Linked DNA regions of Homo sapiens. The main gene of each other region encodes a partner of the protein of the gene in region 2 in a complex. Each region holds a gene or a part of one and is shown on either strand. Other genes may lie near its edges.

What was found.
Region 1: BUD13 (region 2) and RBMX2 share a complex: the UniProt entries of both Homo sapiens proteins name them as parts of the activated spliceosome.
Region 3: BUD13 (region 2) and SNW1 share a complex: the UniProt entries of both Homo sapiens proteins name them as parts of the minor spliceosome.

What each region holds. Positions count from the first base shown.
Region 1 is NC_000023.11:130,400,093-130,403,843, reverse strand, and holds the start of RBMX2 (RNA-binding motif protein, X-linked 2), read right to left. Parts: upstream 1,858-3,751; 5' UTR 1,812-1,857; coding exon 1,807-1,811; intron 1,590-1,806; coding exon 1,474-1,589; intron 43-1,473; coding exon 1-42. UniProt on the Homo sapiens protein: Involved in pre-mRNA splicing as component of the activated spliceosome. As a component of the minor spliceosome, involved in the splicing of U12-type introns in pre-mRNAs.
Region 2 is NC_000011.10:116,771,429-116,775,179, forward strand, and holds the start of BUD13 (BUD13 homolog), read right to left. Parts: upstream 1,560-3,751; 5' UTR 1,537-1,559; coding exon 1,394-1,536; exon of another isoform or gene 603-1,393; coding exon of another isoform or gene 559-602; intron 1-558. UniProt on the Homo sapiens protein: Involved in pre-mRNA splicing as component of the activated spliceosome. As a component of the minor spliceosome, involved in the splicing of U12-type introns in pre-mRNAs.
Region 3 is NC_000014.9:77,740,482-77,744,232, reverse strand, and holds part of SNW1 (SNW domain-containing protein 1), read left to right. Parts: intron 1-3,751. UniProt on the Homo sapiens protein: Involved in pre-mRNA splicing as component of the spliceosome. As a component of the minor spliceosome, involved in the splicing of U12-type introns in pre-mRNAs.

The DNA.
Region 1 (3,751 bases), on a different chromosome or scaffold from region 2:
CACAGATGATGTCCCCTTCAGTCAGTTCATAAGGAAGCCCTCCTAGAAGAGAAAACCACATTTCAGTTCCACCAACATTTACCAAGTGTTTACTACATACCACGCACTAGGCCAGGCACTAGGGGTGGAAACAGTAAGCAACAGGCCCTGCCCTTAAAGAAATCAAGTCTGGGCTGGGCACCGTGGCTCACGCCTGTAATCCCAACACTTTGGGAGGCTGAGGAGGGTGGATCACCTGAGGTCAGGTGTTCGAGACCAGCCTGTCCAACATGGCGAAACCCCGGCTCTACTAAAAATACAAAAAAAAATCAGCCAGGTGAGGTGGCGGGCACCTGTAATCCCAGCTACTCAGGAGGCTGAAGCAGGAGACTCGCTTGAACCCAGGAGGCAGAGGTTGTAGTGCGCCGAGATCGTGCCATTGCACTCCAGCCTGGGCGACAAGAGTGAAACTCCAGCTCAAAAAAAAGAAAGAAAGAAAGAAATTAAGTCTGACTCAATGACAGAAGTACATGTAAGGTGCCAGTAGTACAGAAAAAGGAGTAATTAATTTTGAGTGGAAGTCGGGGTCACCACTAACGAAACTAATCTGATCACTCAGTCCTCCTGCCACCCAAAATCCTATGGACAAAGCAGATAGTTTCCATCACAAACCTCTGCTTCCACAAACATGTTGAATTCATCTGCTCATTACCCACAAATTTACAGCTATGATACAAAATCAGTCTACATATGTCATGATTAACCCCACCTACACATAGACAAAGGTTATAAAGACACTGTTAAGCATTTCCTAGGGAATAATTTCCCCTCCAAATATTTATTTCCTCATTTGTAAGATGGGGATATTAGCACGTAACTCGCAAGATTATTATAAGAGTTAAATAAAACGATGTATATAAAGTGCTTAGCACAATGTTTGGTACAATAACCTCTTTGAAGCATCAAACTTGTACAATTACTGATTGTGATATAAAGTGAATACAGTAATGGTAACGTGGCCATGGACTAGAAAGCAGGAGCTAGAGGAGCAAAGTGAATTCTGGAAGGGAAGGGGAATGGGGGAGGGTGGTGGTAGCAATATGGAGCTGTGGCTAAGACCAAGAGTTCTAGAATGCTATAGTTCTGCCTGTTGCGCTTACTAGCTATGTGACCTTAAGGAAGTCCCTTAACTTCTCTGCACCCCAATTTCCTCAGCAGTATAATGGGTCAGAGGGTGAGAGAGAAATAACAACAGTCCCTGAACCTTAGCACAGCAAATGGCAAACAGTAACTCTCATGAGCACTGATTTGGCAGGGAAGGAAAACTAAAAATGGGGCAGAAAAGAGATGTAACACGGATTCCCGGGCAGACAGCAGATGGATATGAAGGTGGGCGATGAATGTAAGCAGGAGTGAAGGGTGAAAATGCCGAAATAGTCGGAAACCGAGCAGGAGAATCTGGAGAGCACTGAGGAAGAAAGATGTGGACCTCACCCAGGAAGATCCAGGCGCTGTCCTTGTACTCGGAGTGCCAGGACACCTTATCGGCCACCCCAAGCTGGACCTCTCGTTCATTCAGCTCGTTGATCAGCTTCACCTTAGTTAAAGGGCTTCACGGTGGCGGGGGGGGTGGGGAGGGTAGGCAGAAAAGCAGACAAGTAAGTGCGAACCGGCCGGAGCTGAGGAAGAGCAAAACTAGGGGACGAGCTGTTCCAGTCCCCGCGCCGCTCCCGCCCCTCGGCCCCGCAGACGCTCTACCACACCAGTCCCGGTGGACCACCCCCAGTGGCCCGCTGCTCCTTCCTCAAAAGGAAGCTGACGCCTTACTTCATCTCCTCGGGTTCGCGCTCAGCACTCAGGAATCAGCGCCCGGGAAAGGCAGCGCAGCGCATGCGCGGCCCCGGCGCCAGTGGCCAGTCGATTCGGTGACCTCGCGCCGGAAGAGCCGGGGCGTACCGGGGCGTGGCGCCTGCGCACTAGCAGCCTTCCGCGCTGCGTGCGGTTACCTCTTGGAGAGGTGGTTTTTCTCTAGTTTTTCGCTTTTTCTTCTCTGTGAAATGGGGTAAAGGCACAAGCCTGGGCTGTTGCAGGACCCCCACCTCTTGAACGATATCTGAAACTGGTTAGATTAGCTATAAATATTTGCTGAGTGAACGGAACAAGCAGCCTGATGTGGCGACTTTAGTCTCAGCCCTCGCTCCCAGTCCAGAGTCCCACTTGGACCTTCGCTCCTAGTCAGTTGCTAAAGCACAGACCCATCAAAGCATCCCTGTCATGGCAGAAAAGTGAAGAAGATAGGTGAAAAGGTAAATCTTCTGTTGTCCTTATCCCAATACATAGGCAACAGACCAGTGTGCTTCTATAGGCTGAATCGAATACCTACACATTTGCATGAGAACTGCTGCACTTACTCTTTTCCATAGGCTCTCTCCTAGTTGAGCAGGAGGCAGAAATTAATATTGTTAAATTAATAGCTAACAATTGAGCAGATGATGTACTATACGATGCTAGAGTATGTACTAAGCAATTTACATGTATTGTCTCTCCACCCTCACAACAACCCAATAAAGCAGAGAAAATTACAATCCCTAGCCGGGCACAGCAGCTCAGCCTGTAATCCCAGCACTTTGGGAAGCTGAGGTAGGAGGATTGCTTGAGCTCAGGAGTTCGAGACCATCCTGGGCAACATAGCAAGACCCTGTCTCTAAAATAAAGGGAAAAAAAGGGGGGCCAAGTGTGGTGGCTCATGCCTGTCATCCCAACACTTTGGGAGGCTAAGACGGGTGGATCACCTGAAGTCGGGAGTTCAAGACCAGCCTGGCCAAGATGGTGAAACTCTGTCTCTACTAAAAATACAAAAATTAGCCAGGCATGGTGTCACACGCCTGTAATCTCAGCTACTCAGGGGGCTGAGGCAGGAGAATCACTTGAACCTGGGAGGCAGAGATTGCAGTGAGCTGAGATCGCACCACTGCACTCTAGCCTGGGCAGCAGAGTGAGACTCCTTTTTATTTAAAAAAAAAAAGAAAGAAAAGAAAAAAAATTTCCACCCTCATTTTGTAGAGGAAGAAATGAGGCTCAAAGGAATAAATTAACTTGAAAGGTACTCTACCTGCACCCGTCAGGTCAGGTTGATTTAATCAGTCCTTACTGAACATCTAGATTTGTCCTGTACAGCTAAGGTCTGTAGACAGGAGTATCAGGGTGGGTCCTCTGCCTTCAAGGAGCTAATATTATAATTAAGGGGACAAGATATATTTGCTTGATAGATTTCAACCAGAAATATCTAGAAACCAGTGGAAGAGATTATTAATGTATAATATGTGATTTAACCCATATTGACAGTTTGAATCCATTTTGCATGTGTCCACATCAATACCTGCTCTTGGACTATGATGTTCTAAAAGTGAAAGTCCAGAGCTGTGCGGCCTAACTCAGAGCACCAGATATTAGGTCCTTCATAAAAGCATTTTGATGATGATAACAACTGTACCCTCAAGTGGCCCACCATGTAACCAATGTCCTGCCAAGAAGGAGAACAGAGGCTGCCCACCAATGACAGTTCCTCCTCATTCATTCTGTGTCTGTTCCCCCCTCCCCATTCCAACCCAGCTATTCATTAACTTTGTAAAATTATCTTGGCAATGAAAGCTAAACAGTGACAGATTGCACATGGGGTTTATCTGCTCCTAGGAATCTCAGGTTGCTTAGTTGTGGGTTGAAGTAGCCATTGCAGAGTGGTAAACTAGCATGCAGCATTATCTTGCTGACT
Region 2 (3,751 bases):
AAATAATAACAATGACTGCCATGATGTGAAGTTATTCAAAAAGCCAGGGTCACTTAATGCAATCCCTCTAATCACAACCACCACTTAATAAAACCATTATTATTATTATTCTCATTTTAAAGATAAGGAAACTGCAGCTCAGTGAGATGAAACACCTTGCCCAAGGGTACACAGCCTATAAAGTGGCACAGCTAGGATTCGAACTCTGACCAGTGCTGCTCCAACACTCAAGCTACTTTCATCACATGGCACTGCCTCCAAAGGATCCACACAAGTCAGCGAGGCAGAAAGACGAAGACAATAATAAGGCAAGCACCAAACCAGAAAAGAACTTGGACTAGTTCTTTAGAACAATGTGACTTCACTGGGTATCTCAGTGCCTTAGGGTTACTGTAACAAAGTACCACAAATTGCGTGGCATAAAACAACAGAAACTCTCTCGCAGTTCTGGAAGCTAGCAATCTGAAATCCAGGTGTCTGCAAGGCCATCCTCCCTGGAAAGTCTCTAGCAGAGAATCTTTCCTTGCCTCTCCCAGCTTCTGGTAGCCCCAAGCATACCTTGGCTTTTGGCAACATAAATCCAATCCAATCTCAGCCTTCATCTAGACATGGTCGTTTTTCCTTTGTTGCTGTGTCTGTATCCATACTTCCCTCTTTTTAAAAGGCAAACAGTCATCTTGGATTTGGCACCCACCTTAATCAAGTATGACCTCATCTTAACTGATTACATCTCCAAAGACCCTATTTCTAAATGTCACATTCTGTGGTTCTGGGTGGAAAACGATTTGGTAGGGCCCACTACACTGGGCCACAAAGTTGTCCCATATGAAAATAATACCCACTTCATGGTAGTGTGGTGAGGCTTAAATAAACTTATATATGTTTAAATTTCTTATAATGGTGCCTGGCAAGAAAAGTATAACTATATAAATGTTAGCTTCTCACGTTAGGACTATTACTAAGAGTAACAGGAGGTGATCAAAGGTCTCTGATTCAGAACCAAGTCCTTGGGATCTGGGAATCCCCACAGGCAGGTACCGGGCCCTAAAGATCCAAGCACAGAGGCTTTGAATCCGCTCCATTATTCTCGAGGCACAATATTCATTCTCTATGGGAGAGGACGGAAGTCTACCAAGGCGGGAAAAGAGTAATCAAAGTTACACCCCGGCTTTAACGCACTGACGCTACTGCTCAGAGGCTCGAGATGTAAGCGGGGCGGCAGAGGCAAGGCGGGGGGCCTCAAGCGATGTGAGTGGGGCCCTGAGCATGAGCAGGGGTCGGCGGAGAAGCCGAGAGACCCGCCAAGAGGGAAGGAACTGCCGGGCGGCCGAGGGCGGAGTTGGGAAGGGGTGGCTAGACGTCGCAGGCCCCGCCCCGGCCGGTACCAACTCACCCCTTGCCGCCGGCCCCGCCAGGCTTCGGCCGCTTTTTGCGACGCTTGCGACCGGACTCAGATCCCCGGTCGACGCCGGCATCTGCCCCGGACAAGTAACGCTTCAGATACTCGGCCTTGGAAAGCGGCGGAGCTGCCGCCATGGCAGCGGCGGGGGCAGAGAGACGGGTCGGCGCTGGGGACAAAATGCCTCAACGCGTAACGGACGCCAGCCACCCGACAGGGCGGGGCCACGGCCGGAAGTGGCGGAGAGTGCTAAGAATCGCGCGGCTGGCAGGTGCGGCCACCGGGACGCGCTCGCAGGCTAGCCAGGGACGTGCGCACCTTCGGGGCGCTCCACAGCCCTGGGACGACGCCACCAGGTTTCTTCTCTTCATTCACTCACCCACCCACCCACCCATCCATCCAACCGCAGCAAGCGCTGTTCTATGAGGCCACAACCTGACCCAAAGGACCCCGCCCCCATCGGCCGCCTAAACTCCAGAGCACGAGCAAGAAAGTGGAGGGCCACGGGCTGCAGCGTAGCCGAGTTTGAATACTGGTTCCATAGCTGGCTAGCTGTACGACCTCGGGCAAGTTATCACAAAACAGGGAGAATCCCGGCACCTAACTCGGAACGGTCACAGGCTGAGATGATATTACTGTGTGAAGTGCGCAGAGCGGTGTTGGGCACATGGTCATCGGAACTATGTTCGTTATTTTTATAAGTATCTTTAAGTGGGGGGAATCTGCTCCACTAGGCTTCCAGGTACCTACCGTCCAAGAAAGGAAGCCAGGAAGTGCAAACCAACATAATTACTATGAAAAACGTAGTTTCTAAGACCTGTGTAACTCTTCTAGTGTTCTATTACAAGTAGCCCCCAGTTATCTCTTGAAGGAAACTGTAAAACAATCTTGCCAATGAGAAGGACGGACCTGGATCATTTTTTAGCATAGTAAAAGAGAGAAACCAGAGAGAATGAATTCTAACACTCAAGTTTTGGGGGGAAAGAAAAGACTTTATTCTTTGCAGGGGGTTTAGAGCTTTACCTGAATTATCTCATTTAACCCTCACAATTCTCAAATCGTTTCATTATCATATTTTACAGATAAGAACTGAAGCGTGGCAAGATTAAGGAAGTTGCTCAACTTCACATAGTCAGAACATGACTCTAGGGAGTAGAGGCTAGCGAAGTGGGGTGCAAGAGGTCATCCAAATTTCTTGAAATACCAGATCTTTTTACCTCATCATATATGTTAGATTGTCAGTTTTATCGTTTTCTTCCCAGCTTTATTATTTGACAAAAAATTATATATATTCAAGGTGTACAATGTGATGACTGGATATAATTATACATTGTGTAATGATTACCAAAATCAAATTAAGTAAAACATCCTTCACTAATTTATGTAGTAGTTCGGTGGGGGGGCACTTAAGCAAATTTGTCTTAGCAAACTTCAAGTAAACAATACAGAATTATTAGCTATAGTCAACATGTTGTACATTAGATTCCCAGAACTTGTCTTAAAACTGAAAACTTGTACCATTTGAGAGAGAAGTTTTAGTGTTACTGAAATCACAGACTTCTGACAGAATTTGCAGGATGCTATACACAACTACACAAAAGTGCAAACAATAGTTTCTTGGACCAAGAGTCAAAAAGGTCACTTTTTTAATATATTAGTCAAGCAGACAGGGCTATACTTTATAAATAAATACACATTATCTGGGGATAAGTGTTTAAAAAATTCTTTACTCATATAATACAAAACAGGCTTGGGGATCAGTCTTGAAGCATGAATTTTTACCCAGTGGGCCATGTTGAGGGGGTTGCAGCACAGGCCCAGAAAGGAAAGCAGGCTGGGGCTCTGAGGGCTTGTGAGACGAGGACGCTGGGCTGAGAAGATAGGGCTTCACTAGGCGGAGGGCCCCAGGGTACCCCATACACAAGCCTGCCTTGGCTTCTCGTCCAATTTGGTGCATCTCACACTACACAGCCCTGCCCCACCCTGGTGTCAGCAGGCATTCAGAAAGCCTCACACTTCTGCTCCAGTGAACACTGCCAGGATAGCCCTCTGAACTTCCACCCACCCATCTTCTGCCCATTTGTTTTCTTTGTCTTCAATTCCACTGCTACCCATCCTACCCCAGTCCCTTAGCCTGACAAGGCCCAAGTGTCTCCACCCTGTGCTGCAGGGCAGTTAAGCAGGATCAGATGCCGTGCCAATGGCCTGCTCTGAGCTTTGGCCTCTCTCTGCAGTTGTATCTAATAGAACAAATACAGTAATTGTGGAGCTGAGCTTAAAATATTCAGACCTCAGGTTTCAGAGTCTGACTGGCATGGGTTTGACACCTGCCTCTTAGAAGCTCTACTTCTG
Region 3 (3,751 bases), on a different chromosome or scaffold from region 2:
GATCCATCCTCCTCAGCTTCCCAAAGTGCTGGGATTATAGGCGTGAGTCGCTGTGCCCAGCCTATGCTATTTTCTTTTTTTCTTTTTTTTTTTTTTTGAGATGGAGTCTCACTCTGTCACCCAGGCTGAAATGCAGTGGCACGATCTTGGCTCACTGCAACCTCCCAAAGTGATGGGATTACAGGCATGAGCGACTACACCCGGCCAGATCGTTGCTTTTGTCTGTAATGCAGCCACTAGAAACAAACCCCAAACTGGGACCACTCTCAGGTTTATATCTTTTTGTTTGTTTGTTTTCTAGAAGTGGATAGATTCATGCATGAAGTTTGGAATGCATTGAGTAATTCAACATTAATCAAGTAACTATTATGTGCCATTGGCACTGGGGGAGCACTTTGATTGTTTAGGACCATCTTCAGCATTGTACAATGTTTAGCATAAGTGGCACTACCTATAAATCCCAGTAGCGTCCCCATCCTACCCCCATTGTCTTAACTAGAAACACCTCACACATTTACAAAGGCACTGGGAGAGAGGAGTTAGAGGTGGCAGTGATGCCCTGTTTGACAATCACTGATTTTCCTGTTTTAGAAGAAATAGAAATGGACTGCATAATATATAAAATAGGATTTAAAAAATTTGTTATTCCAGAGACTGAACAGGTTATTGGATTTATGAATTTGGACTAAGATTTCTGATTTGCTTCCGAGAGGTCTGGTATTCTTCAGAAACGAGGGAGTTCTCACTGAAATATTAATAGTGAATGAGTAAGAATGGAAAATACTAGGTGTTAGGTATAAGAGGTGAGAAGAATCAGTGAGGATTCTAAGACGTAATATTCTAGGACAAGTCTAAGGCAATTCTCTACATGTGAAGTAAGTACTGTGTATACGACTTATTAGTCATACAAAATTGGGGATGAAAAAGTTTTTTTTAGTGTAAATCTTGATACAACCAAATGCTTTTTTTTTCCTAATTATGAAAGTGATAAATCTTTTTTTTTTTTTGAAACGGAGTTTTGCTCTTGTTGCCCAGGCTGGGGTGCAATGGCACGATCTCAGCTCACCGCAACCTCTGCCTCCCGGGTTCAAGTGATTCTCCTGCCTCAGCCTCCTGAGTAGCTGGGATTACAGGCATGTGCCACCACGCCTGACTAATTTTGTATTTTTGGTAGAGACAGTGTTTCTCCGTGTTGGTCAGGCTAGTCTCCAACTCCCAACCTCAGGTGATCCACCCACCTCGGCCTCCTAAAGTGCTGGGATTACAGGCATGAGCCACCACACCCAGCCAAGTGATAAATCTTGAAATAAAGGGCTTGGTGTATGTATTTTTCCCTCTGAAATAGTTATGTAAGAAATACTACATACAGGCCAAGTGCATTGGCTCATGCCTGTAATCCCAGCACTTTGGGAAGGTTGAGGTGGGAGGATCATTTGAGGCCAGGAGTTTGAGACTAGCCTGGGCAATATAATGAAACCCTATCTCTTAAAGAAACGAAATGTTACACACGTACTATACCCAAAAGAATGCCTTCAACGTATTACCCCTAAAAAACCGTAACAACTTTAAACTGACCCCATGATAAATTATATGTTATCTTGTTTGTATGATTTCACACACTAGCTAAGCTAGATTAGCGTTTTCTTTCTACCTCACATAGTGAATGTTTTGACAGGCTTATCCTTTTAGTCAGTCTAGTTCTTTGCCAGTTTTCTGTAATAAAATATCTGTTTCACAGATGAGTTACTACTTTATCTTGTTGACAAAGCTTATTTGTGCTTCTGATACTTTCAAGAGTATATTGTATTTTTCAGAAAACGCTCCCCAGCCCATTTGCCTCCTGGTACTCAGTTTCCTCAGCACATTTAATTCTCAGACTATAAAAATTTGGGGTTTTGGCCAGGTGCTGTGGCTCACGCCTGTAATCCCAGCACTTTGGGAGGCCGAGGCGGGTGGATCGCCTGAGGTCAGGAGATCGAGACCAGCCTGGCCAACATGGTGAAACCCCATCTCTAATAAAAATACAAAAATTAGCTGGACGTGGTGTCATGCGCCTGTAATCCCAGCAACTTGGGAGGGAGGCTGAGGCAGGAGAATGGTTTTAACCCGGGAGGCGGAGGTTGCTATGAGCTGAGATCACGCCATTGCACTCCAGCTTGGGCAACAAGAGCAAGACTTCGTCTCAAAAAAAAAAAAATGGGGGGTTTTATAATTAATTACTATGGAGGAATCTTGCTCTTCAGATGTCCTTCACTCAGCCTTGTGAGATACTAGAATCTTATTGATGCTCATTTGAAGGGTTATTAACTTTGGAATGCCCAAATAAGGAGCAGCAAATGACTCTTGTATGCTAAATTAGTATTGACACTTTATGTTGAACATACATGACTACCAGGGAGCCATTTACTTAGAATCCTTTCCTTATAACCGTTGCTATGGAGAAGTGATAAACTCCTCATGATTAACTCTTCATAGAATTGGTATTTTTTTCTTGTGTTGTTATATAATTTTCAGCTTAGGGTTGTATAGGTTTTTCCATGCTGAGAGGAAATAAGACTTTTGAGGTCAGATAGTAGCTGTATGATCTTAATGTACTGAACCTCACTCTTTTCAGTAGAGTGAGCTTTATGGTCCCTTCCAAAATCAACACTCTTAGAGTATGGTGACACTAATAACTCACATATCAGTAGTACGTGTTTTGTGCTAAATCATCTTAGGCTTTCTTACCTGATCCCTCTTCTCACTCCTGAGAAAAACAAGCTGGAGATTTTAGTGTATAGCCATGAGATAGTTTTTTCTGGGAAATCAGTAGCTTATAGAAAGTTCTGTACGGCCTAAAATATAAACTTATTTATTTATTCATTCATCCATCCATTCTTTAAAATAGAGATAGGTCTTGCCATGTTGCCCTGGCTGGTCTCGAATTCCTGGGCTCAAGCTATCCTCCAACCTTGGCCTTCCAAAATGCTGTGATTACAGGCGTGAGTCACTGTTCATGGCCTATAAACACCTTTAGCATGTAACAGAATATCTCTAAAATTCATTTATTTATTCATTTGTACAAAAAATATTGATCAAATATCTCCAGTCATTATTATAAAGCACAGGAGACACTTTTTTTTTTTTTTTTTTTTTTGGAGACAGTTTCACTCTTGTTGCTCAGGCTGGAGTGCAATGGCATGATCTCGGCTCACTGTCACCTCCGTCTCCTGGGTTCAAGCGATTCTCCTGCCTCAGCGTCTCATGTAGCTGAGATTACAGGCACCCACCACCATGCCTGGTTAATTTTTCTGTTTTTGGGAGAGACGGGGTTTCACCATGTTGGTCAGGCTGGTCTTGAAATCCTGACCTCAGGTGATCCACCCACCTCGGCCTCCCAAAGTGCTGGGATTACAGGCGTGAGCCACCGTGCCCTCCCCGTTTTTATTGTTTTAATACGGGAGACAGATAATAACCATGTAAAGTAGATAATTTCATGCTGTGAACAGTCTTGATCACAGTAAACAGTGCTATGGAGCAAATGATTGGGTGGGGAGGGGTTACTACTAAGGCAATCAGAAGAAGCCTCGATAATGGAGGACCTTTGATCTGAGACACACAGATTGAGAGCTTACTTGAAGAATGATAAACAGAACTCTGTAAAGGCCTAGAATTGGGGAAAAGTATGTTATGTTCAAGAAACAGAAGATGAGCTAGTGTGACTGAAGCATAATGAGTGAGAGAGTGAGAGTTGTAAGGGGAGATTGAAGGC